Regions from separate parts of the Homo sapiens genome. Here region 1 is linked to region 2. Evidence: fine-mapped expression QTL. A gene starts in region 2. The other region holds a variant in brackets. All regions are shown on one strand. Distances are from middle to middle. Region 1 overlaps IL12RB1 (interleukin 12 receptor subunit beta 1). Region 2 holds the start of IL12RB1 (interleukin 12 receptor subunit beta 1).

What was found. PIP is the estimated chance that this variant, and not a neighbour inherited with it, causes the effect.
Region 1: its variant is fine-mapped to the expression of IL12RB1 in whole blood (INTERVAL, PIP above 0.99).

The regions. Positions count from the first base shown.
Region 1 is chr19:18,057,486-18,061,906 of GRCh38, forward strand. IL12RB1 (interleukin 12 receptor subunit beta 1) reads right to left here. Exons shown (of 17, transcript NM_005535.3): 15 at 3,637-3,712; 16 at 2,409-2,600; 17 at 1,510-2,128. The coding sequence ends at 2,123. Among named protein-coding and RNA genes, the nearest start is that of IL12RB1, 27 kb to the right of the region's middle. The variant T/TC (reference allele first, on the strand shown) is at 1,970.
Region 2 is chr19:18,085,070-18,089,069 of GRCh38, forward strand. IL12RB1 (interleukin 12 receptor subunit beta 1) reads right to left here and starts at 1,865. Exons shown (of 17, transcript NM_005535.3): 1 at 1,691-1,865. The coding sequence starts at 1,754. RefSeq lists enhancers at 1,777-2,126, 2,137-2,196.

The DNA of each region.
Region 1 (4,421 bases), 27 kb before region 2:
AGGTGATCAGCCCGCCTCTGCCTCCCAAAGTGCTGGGATTACAGGCGTGAGCCACCATGCCCGGCCTAAAATATTTTTTAAAAACAGGAACCAGATGGAAAATATTGGGTTTCAGGTATGGCTGGATCCAGGAACTAATGCTTCATCTCGGTGCTGCTGTCCTCCCTGCAGGCTCCTCTCTCAGACAGGCATCCCCACGGTAGGAAGGAAAGAGGCTCCAAGCTCCAGGCTTCCCTCTGTCCAGCTCAGTCTCCCGCTAGTGGAAGCAGGGTGTGCATCTTCCCCATGCACTCTGGCAAAAGTCCCAGCTGCTGCCAGTAAACATTGCCTGTCTCCTACTTCTCGCACCCAAGGGACTGTGCATAGGGGTGGGTTTGCAGCCAACTCCAGGGGCCTCCAGGGCTCACACCTGCAATCCCAGCAGTTTGGGAGGCCGAGGCGGGTGGATCACTTGAGGTCTGGAGTTCAAGACGAGCCTGGCCAACATGGTGAAACCCTGTTTCTACTAAAAATACAAACACATTTTAGCTGGTCAGGGTGGCGGGCGCCTGTAATCCCAGCTACTTGGGAGGCTGAGGCAGGAGAATCGCTTGAACCCGGGAGGTTGCCGTGAGCCAAGATCGCGCCATTGCACTCCAGCAACAAGAGCCAAACTCCGTCTCAGAAAAAAGAAAGGAGGATAAACGCTCAAGGGAGGGCATGCCTGGTGGAGGGAACGGCTTGAGCAGAAGCTGGGATGTGGCAGATCCGGAGCGGGGCGGGGGGCATTTGCAGAACTCTGACCAGCCACCGTGTGGCTGGGGCACCGAGATCCAGGCCTCTGTTTCCCTATCTAGATGCATCGATGGGGAAAGGGAGGCCCCCAGACCAAAGGGGCGGGGCCTGGGCCTCTTGCCTCCTGGCCCTATTGGCTGCCAGGGGTCTCTCCCCGAGAGGTCTCATCCTTTTTTTGCCACAAAATTCAGTAGTTCTGGGCTTTTTAACTCCCCTCCTCTGTCTGAAACCGGAAAAGTCTGTTTAGCAAACGCGGTGGGAGGAGGCAGGGCGGGCCCGGCCGGGGAAACGCGCGCCGCTGTTGCCACCTGGTGGCCATGGGGAGAATCTGGACTACCCGCTAATCGCCAGGGCTGGGGTGGGATTTCAGGAGCCCCCCCCCACACCTCGGCTCAGACCGCAGTGGGGATCAGGGGGAGGCGGCTGCAGAACGCGAGGGAGGTGGGGCAGTGTGGGCAGAAAGAGGGAGGATTCAGGGTGTGTAAGGGGGGCAAGGGTCCTGCTGCGAGTTGGTGGGCGTGAGGAGGAAGGAGCGTGGGGGCAAACCACGGTTCCTGTTACCGGAGTGCCCGGCTGCTCCACTCCCCCTAGGCCGTCCCTTCCCCTGCTCAGTCCTAACTTAGTAGGGTTCCAAGCTCTCATCCGGCTCTGTCTCCCCCGGATTAGGTGCTCCTGGAGGAGACCTAGAGGAAGAGATTAATAAATATATGTGGAATGAATGAATGAATGAATGAATGAATTCCAAGGCTCGTGTTTTGAGATTTTGAGCAGGACATTCAAGCTTCAAACAGGAAAAAAATACCCAAGAGGAGGCTCATTTACGATGATTTTGAACAGCTGTGTAAGGTCATTATCACCACCCCCATTTTATAGGGGGGTGAGGGTGGGGTGGGGGGTGGGATGGGAGGACCGTCATTTTTCCCACAAAGTTTACAGCCCCCTTCCCTATATGCCTGGATCCTCCAAGCTACAAGACCCCGCAATGCTGCAGGGAGCCCTTGAGTCCAGACTCCCCATCCAGTGCTCCTGGGGGTGGATGCCCAGCCCAGGGTCCAGGGATCCATCTGAGCCCCCCTTGCCCCCATTCCCAGTCCATTCTACGCCAGAACAGGTAAATGGCAGGGTCTGCTCCTGCCCCACGGATGCCAGGCCCAGCAGGGTGCAGCAGCTTCCATTTCATGGCAGCATCTAGGGT[T/TC]CCCCCGCAGGATGGGTGGCAACAGGCACGGGGCAGAGAGGAGGCAGGTGCACTGGAGCCTGGAGGAGCTCTGGGTTATTTGGGTCCAAATGTGACTCCTGTGTGTGCTACGTAGCCTCGGGCGAGTCACTCACCCTCTCTGAGCCTCAACGATCACATCTGTAAAGTACAACAGTCATGGTTCCTTTCAGGGGGTGGTTGTAGGGATTTGGTAGGGAATCATGTGAGTGGATGGAATGGGCTGGGTATGCCATAAGTGCTTAATAACCAGCCGTTGTGATTGAGATAGTCGCTCTTCGTGTCTGTAAGACAAAGTGGATGTTTTCGTTTCTCCCTCAGGCCTCCAGGCCCTGATATCCCAGGAGCGATGGATGTCTAGCCCCCCCACCCCCCGGGCAGGGTTGCACCCCTGACCGTCTGGCCCACTGGGCCCCAGGACCTTGGCCTTGCACCTGTCTCCATCCTCCAAGGACAACTCTGTATCCAGGGCCAGCTCAGGGGCACCCTCAGGTAGCTCTGTCTTCTCGAGAGGCTCAGTCCTCTCGCCTTTGTCCCAGGACATCTCTACCACCAGGGCCTCCTGCAGGGATGCCTCTTCCTGGAAGTCCACTGGGTTGATCCACTGCCAAGTCTGCAGAGGGAGGGTAGGGCCACAGCTGTGAGCAGAGCTCTACTTCCCATCCACAGCAGGATGGAACGGACCAGGTCACTGCTGGTTAAATTCTCTAACATCCTGAGACCTGGACGGGTGCAGTGGCTCACACCTGTCATCCCAGCACTTTGGGAGGCTGAGGCGGGTGGATCACTTGAGGTCAGCAGTTTGAGACCAGCCTGGAGAACATGGCCAAACCCCATCTCTACTAAAAATACAAAAATTAGCTGAGCTTGGTTGCGCACGCCTGTAATCCCAGCTACTTGGGAGGCTGAAGCAGGAGAATCGTTTGAACCCGGGAATCAGAGGTTGCAGTGAGCCGAGATGGCGCCACTGCACTCCAGGCTGGGTGACAGAGCGAGACTCCATATATCCTGAGACCGATTTGAGGATGGAGTCTGCCGCACTGACTCCCATTCAGCCCCTCTTAGGAAGAGCACTCCCATCTGTCTTTGGGAAATTTCCCTCCCTCTTTTCACAGATGGTGTGGTTGACAGTGCAGTGACCCCACCTCAGCTCTAGCAATGGTCATGTGACCCTGGCCAGCCCACCCATCAGACCCTTCCCTACCCCTCTGGTTCTAGCCATAGGCTCAGGGAAGGGCATGTGACCCAAGCTGGACCAATCAGTGATGGCCCTGAGACTTTTGCCCCAGTTAATGGGGAAAATGGACACCCTGCTTCCAATCAGAGAAGGCTCAGCCTGCCTGCGGAAGAACCCTGAACGGGCAGCTCCGAGATAGACCCCAATCGCTGGATTCAGGCATATCTGAAGCCCATTCCCTTGGGATTTTTTCCATCAGGTTTCCTTTATAATAAAGCCACTTTGAATTCTGTTTCTAGTGCCAGGAAATGGACCTCTGCCTGCCTGTCTTTAAAATGGGAAGGGGTATGGAGCACTGGTTTTGGAGTCCTTACCTTGATGAATTGGGAGAGAATAAAATGAGCTAATGCGTAACCCTTGTCCAGCATGTGCACCCAATAAAAAGACTTGGAATTAGAAAAGGCATCCTTACCTCCTTCCCTCCAGGGAACTCAATGGCGGAGCTGGCACAGGGTGTGGGCAGCGGCGGGCACAGGTGCCGTGCGGCCCTGGGGAGGAAAGGGGACCAGTGAGAGGAGCTGAGGTTTTTTTTTTTTTTGGAGACGGAGTCTTGCTCTGTTGCCCAGGCTGGAGTGCAGTGGCGCGATCTCGGCTCACTGCAACCTCTGCCTCCTGGGTTCAATCGATTCTCCTGACTCAGCCTCCTGAGTAGCTGAGATTACAAACGTGTGCCACCACACCCGGCTAATTTTTGTAGTTTTGGTAGAGAGAGGTTTCGCCATGTTGGCCAGGCTGGTGTCCAACTCCTGGCCTAAAGCGATCTGCCTGCCTCAGCCTCCCAAAGTGCTGGGATTACAGGAGTGAGCCACCGTGCCCGGCTTGAAAGCAGCTTTCAATCAGACATGCCCACCAGTGTCACCGCCCCTTTCCATGGGAATGACCAAGGACCCAAAAGTTACTATCCCTTCCCTAGAAATTTCTGCATAGGATCACCTGAGGTCAGGAGTTCAAGACCAGCCTGGCCAACATGGTGAAACCCTATCTCTACTGAAAATACAAAATAAATAGCTGGGTGTGATGGCACGCACCTGTAGTCCCAGCTACTTGGGAGGCTGAGACAGGAGAATGGCTTGAACCCGGGAGGGGGAGGTTGCAATAAGCCAAGATCGTGCCACTGCACTCTAGCCTGGGTAACAGAGTAAGACTCCATCTCAAAAAAGAAAAAAAAAAGAAAGAAATTTTGCATAAACTGCCCCC
Region 2 (4,000 bases):
TGCCCTTTGGGATTGCCACAGTCTGCTAGGTGTGGAACTGGGTGAGAGAAGGAGGGGGATGCCACCATGGATGGGTCAGGAAGACCCCGGCGCCCTCACTCCCACAAGAAGGACCTGTCCTGAGCCCTGCAGGCAGATTGGAAGCCTTGGGGGAGAAGGCGGCACCCCAGGAAACAGCCCCAAGTGTCCAACCTTGAGGGGGGAAAGATGCTTAACACACAAGGCTCTCCATCCTTCCATCTCTCTCTGTGATGACACAGAACCCCCACCCACCCACCCACCCCTGAGAGCCTAAAGCCCATCCTCCTTCCCTTTCCCTGGACTGACCACTCACTGCCACTATCTCCAGGATACCTCGTGGGCTGCCTCTCGCCCCCTCCCTGCTGCTGGTCTCCAGCCATGCCTGGCCCCTGAAGGCGCTGGGACCTTGAGGTGTGGCCAGCACTGCTGTGGGCATTCTACAGGCACTCAGTGCATCTCAAGAGCCATTGAAAAAGTCAGCACCCCGCTGATCCCCAGTGTACAGAGAAGGAAAGTTTATTTATTATTATTATTATTGAGATAGAGTCTTGCTCTGCCACACAGGCTGGAATGCAGTGCTGCAATCTCGGCTCACTGCAACCTCTGCCTCCTGGGTTCAAGCGATCCTCCCACCTCAGCTCCTAAGTAGCTGGGAGTACAGGTGCCCATCATCAAGCCTGGCTAATTTTTGCATTTTTAGTAGAGATGGGGTTTCACCATGTTAGCCAGGCTGGTCTCGAACTCCTGACCTCAAGTGATCCACCCATCTTGGCCTCCCATAGTGCTGGATTTTCAGGAGTGAGTCACCGTGCAGGGCCTGAGATTATTAAAAGTATATGGGAAGGCTGGGCATGGTGGCTCATGCCTGTAATCTGAGCACTTTGGGAGGCCAAGGTGAGTGGATCATTTGAGCCCAGGAGTTCGAGACCAGCCTGGGCAACACAGCGAGACGCTGTCTCTGTAAAAAGTATACACCAAAAAAATTAACCAGGCATGGTAGTGTGCACCTGCAGTCCCAGCTACTCAAGGGGCTAAGGCAGGAGGATCACTTGAGCCCAGGTGGTCAAGGCTGCAATGAGTTATGATTAGGCCACTGCACTCCAGCCTGGGACACAGAGTGAGACCCTACCTCAGTAAATAAATAAATAAATAAATAAATAAATAAATAAATAAATAAATAAGTAAAGTATACGGAAGGATGTGCATAGGTTATATGCAAATACTTTACCATTTTATATCAGGAACTTGAGCATCTTTGGATTTTGGTATCTGCAGAGGGTCCTGGAACCATTGCCCCGTAAATATGGAAATGACTGTATACATTATATTATGTATGTCTATCTATTGTAAACTACATACATAAGATACTATACTATGTATACCTATTAGATACATACTTGCTTTTTATTCCTTCCTTAGTTTTTTTTCTCATTGAACTCCGGGAGGTGGAAAAAATTTAGTGCATTTCACAGAAGAGAAAATCTAGACCAGAGGAAAGATGTCTAAGTTCGATCCCAGAAGCCATGACTGCCCATCTCCCATTTGACAGCAGGAAAGACTGAGGCACAGAGAGATGAAACCAACCCACACAGCAGGCCCACAGCTCTCCACACATACACGTGCCTCCACCCAGCAAGAGGAGCCGCCATGCCAGGGTCAGGGGACTCACCGCCCTGCCTGGACAGCAGGAAGAGGAAGAGGAGGGGGACCACCCAGGTCACCAGCGGCTCCATCGGATCCACGTAGAGCCCCACAGCCCCAGGGGAGCCTCTCTGCCACCTGCGAGGTTCAGCCACCCCGTCCCCACTCCGGAACACATTGAAGCTGAGCAAGGAGAAAAGACTGAAAAAAAAGAAAAAAGAAAAAAAGTAAAGTGTCACAGCCCATCCCTAAGGCAAGTCAAAGTGAAAGAGAAACCCAGGAAGTCAGCTCCGTGGTGGTGGTGATGGTGGCGGCCACAGACTCTGGAGCAAGTCTGACTTTGGAGCAAGTCAGGGTTCTAGGGGGTTCTGCCCTGCTGGCCCCAGACCTGAACTGAACACCCAGATGCCAGCCCCATGGGCCCATGGGCCACCTGTGGTTCCATGCACTTGGCCAGGTCTCTGGCCCTCTCTAGCCAATTTTTTTTTTTTTTTTTGAGATGGAGCCCTGCTCTGTCGCCCGGGCTGGAGTGTGGTGGCATGATCTCCACTCACTGCAACTTCTGCCTCCCGGGTTCAAGCAATTCTCCTGCCTCAGCCTCCCGAGTAGCTGGAATTACAGGCAACTGCCACAACATCGAGCTAATTTTTGTATTTTTAGTAGAGACAGGGTTTCACCATGCTGGCCAGGCTGGTCTCGAACTCCTAACCCTAAGTGATCCACCCACCTCAGCCTCCCAAAGTGCTGGGATGACAGGCGTGAGCTACCGTGCCTGGCTGCCAAATTCTTTTTTTCTTCTTTTGAGATAGGGTCTTGATCTGTGGCCCAGCTGTAGTGCAGTGGTGCAATCACGGCTCACTGCAACATCAACCTCCCCAGGCTCAGGCCATCCTCCTACCTCAGCCTCCCCAGGAACTGGGACTACAGGCATGCACCACCACGCCCAGCTAATTTTTGCATTTTTTTTTTTTTAAGAGAGGGGGTTTTGCCATGTTGCCCAGGCTGGTCTCAAACTCCCGGGTTCAAATGATCCGTCCGCCTTGGCCTACCAAAATTCTGGGATCACAGGCGTGAGCCACCGCACCGGGCCATCTCGCCAGCTTCTGAATCTGAGACTCAAGAGCTGAAGGAGGGCAGTGTTCTTGGATGGCCTAATTTCATCCTTCCAACAAATTGTTACAAAGAGCTTGCAGCATGCTGGCCCTCCACAATGCCCACCTCCCCACATGCCAAGCTCCAGCCTTGTGCACCTGGGCTCACCCCTCTAATCCCAGCACTTTGAGAGGTCGAGGTGGGAGGATCACTTGACCCCAGGAGTTTGGGTCTACCTAAACAACATAGCAAGACCCCATCTCTATAAAAAATAAAGAATTAGGCCAGGCGCGGTGGCTCACGCCTGTAATCCCAGTACTTTGGGAGGCCAAGGCAGGTGGATCACGAGGTCAGGAGTTTGAGACCAGCCTGACCAAAATGGTGAAACCCTGTCTCTACTGAAAATACAAAAATTAACCGGGTGTGGTGGCAGGCACCTGTAATCCCAGCTACTGAGGAGGCTGAGGCAGGAGAATCGCTTGAACCCAGGAGGTGGAGGTTGCAGTGAGCCGAGATCGCGCCACTGCACTCCAGCCTGGGCAACAGAGTGACACTCCATCTCAAAATATATATATATATATAAATTAAAAGTTAGCCAGTCGTGGTGGCACACATCTGTATTCTCAGCTACTCAGGAGGCTGAGGTGGGAGAATGGCTTGAACCCAGGAGGTTGAGGCTGCAGTGAATCGTGATTGTGCCACTGCACTCCAGTCTGGGTAACAGAGCAAGATCCTGTCTCTTAAAAAAAAAAAAAAAAAAATTTAAGAGATGCAACTTAGTCTTTCCCCCATGTTCCATTTCTTAGCCTCTGAGTATTTTGTTTCCTGCCCCTCCCTCCCCACTGTCGGCAAAGCCTCTAAATGTCAGTGGAGAAGCTCTGATCCAAGCTACCATGTGGATGAACCCTCAAAAACATAATGCTGGGCTGGGTGCAGTGGTTCACATCTGTAATTCCAACACTTTGGGAGGCCGAGGTGGGCGGATCACCTGAGGTCAGGAGTTTGAGACCAGCCTGGCCAACAAGGCGAAACCCTGTCTCTACTAAAAATACAAAAATTTGCCAGGCCTGGTGACATGTGCCTGTAATTCCAGCTATTCGGGAGGCTGAGGCAGAGAGAATTACTTGAACCTGGGAGGTAGAGGTTGCAGTGAGCTGAGATCGTGCCACTGCACTCCAGCCTGGGTGACAGAGTGAGACTCCATCTCAAAAAAAAAAAAACACACATACACAAAAAAAAAAACCCA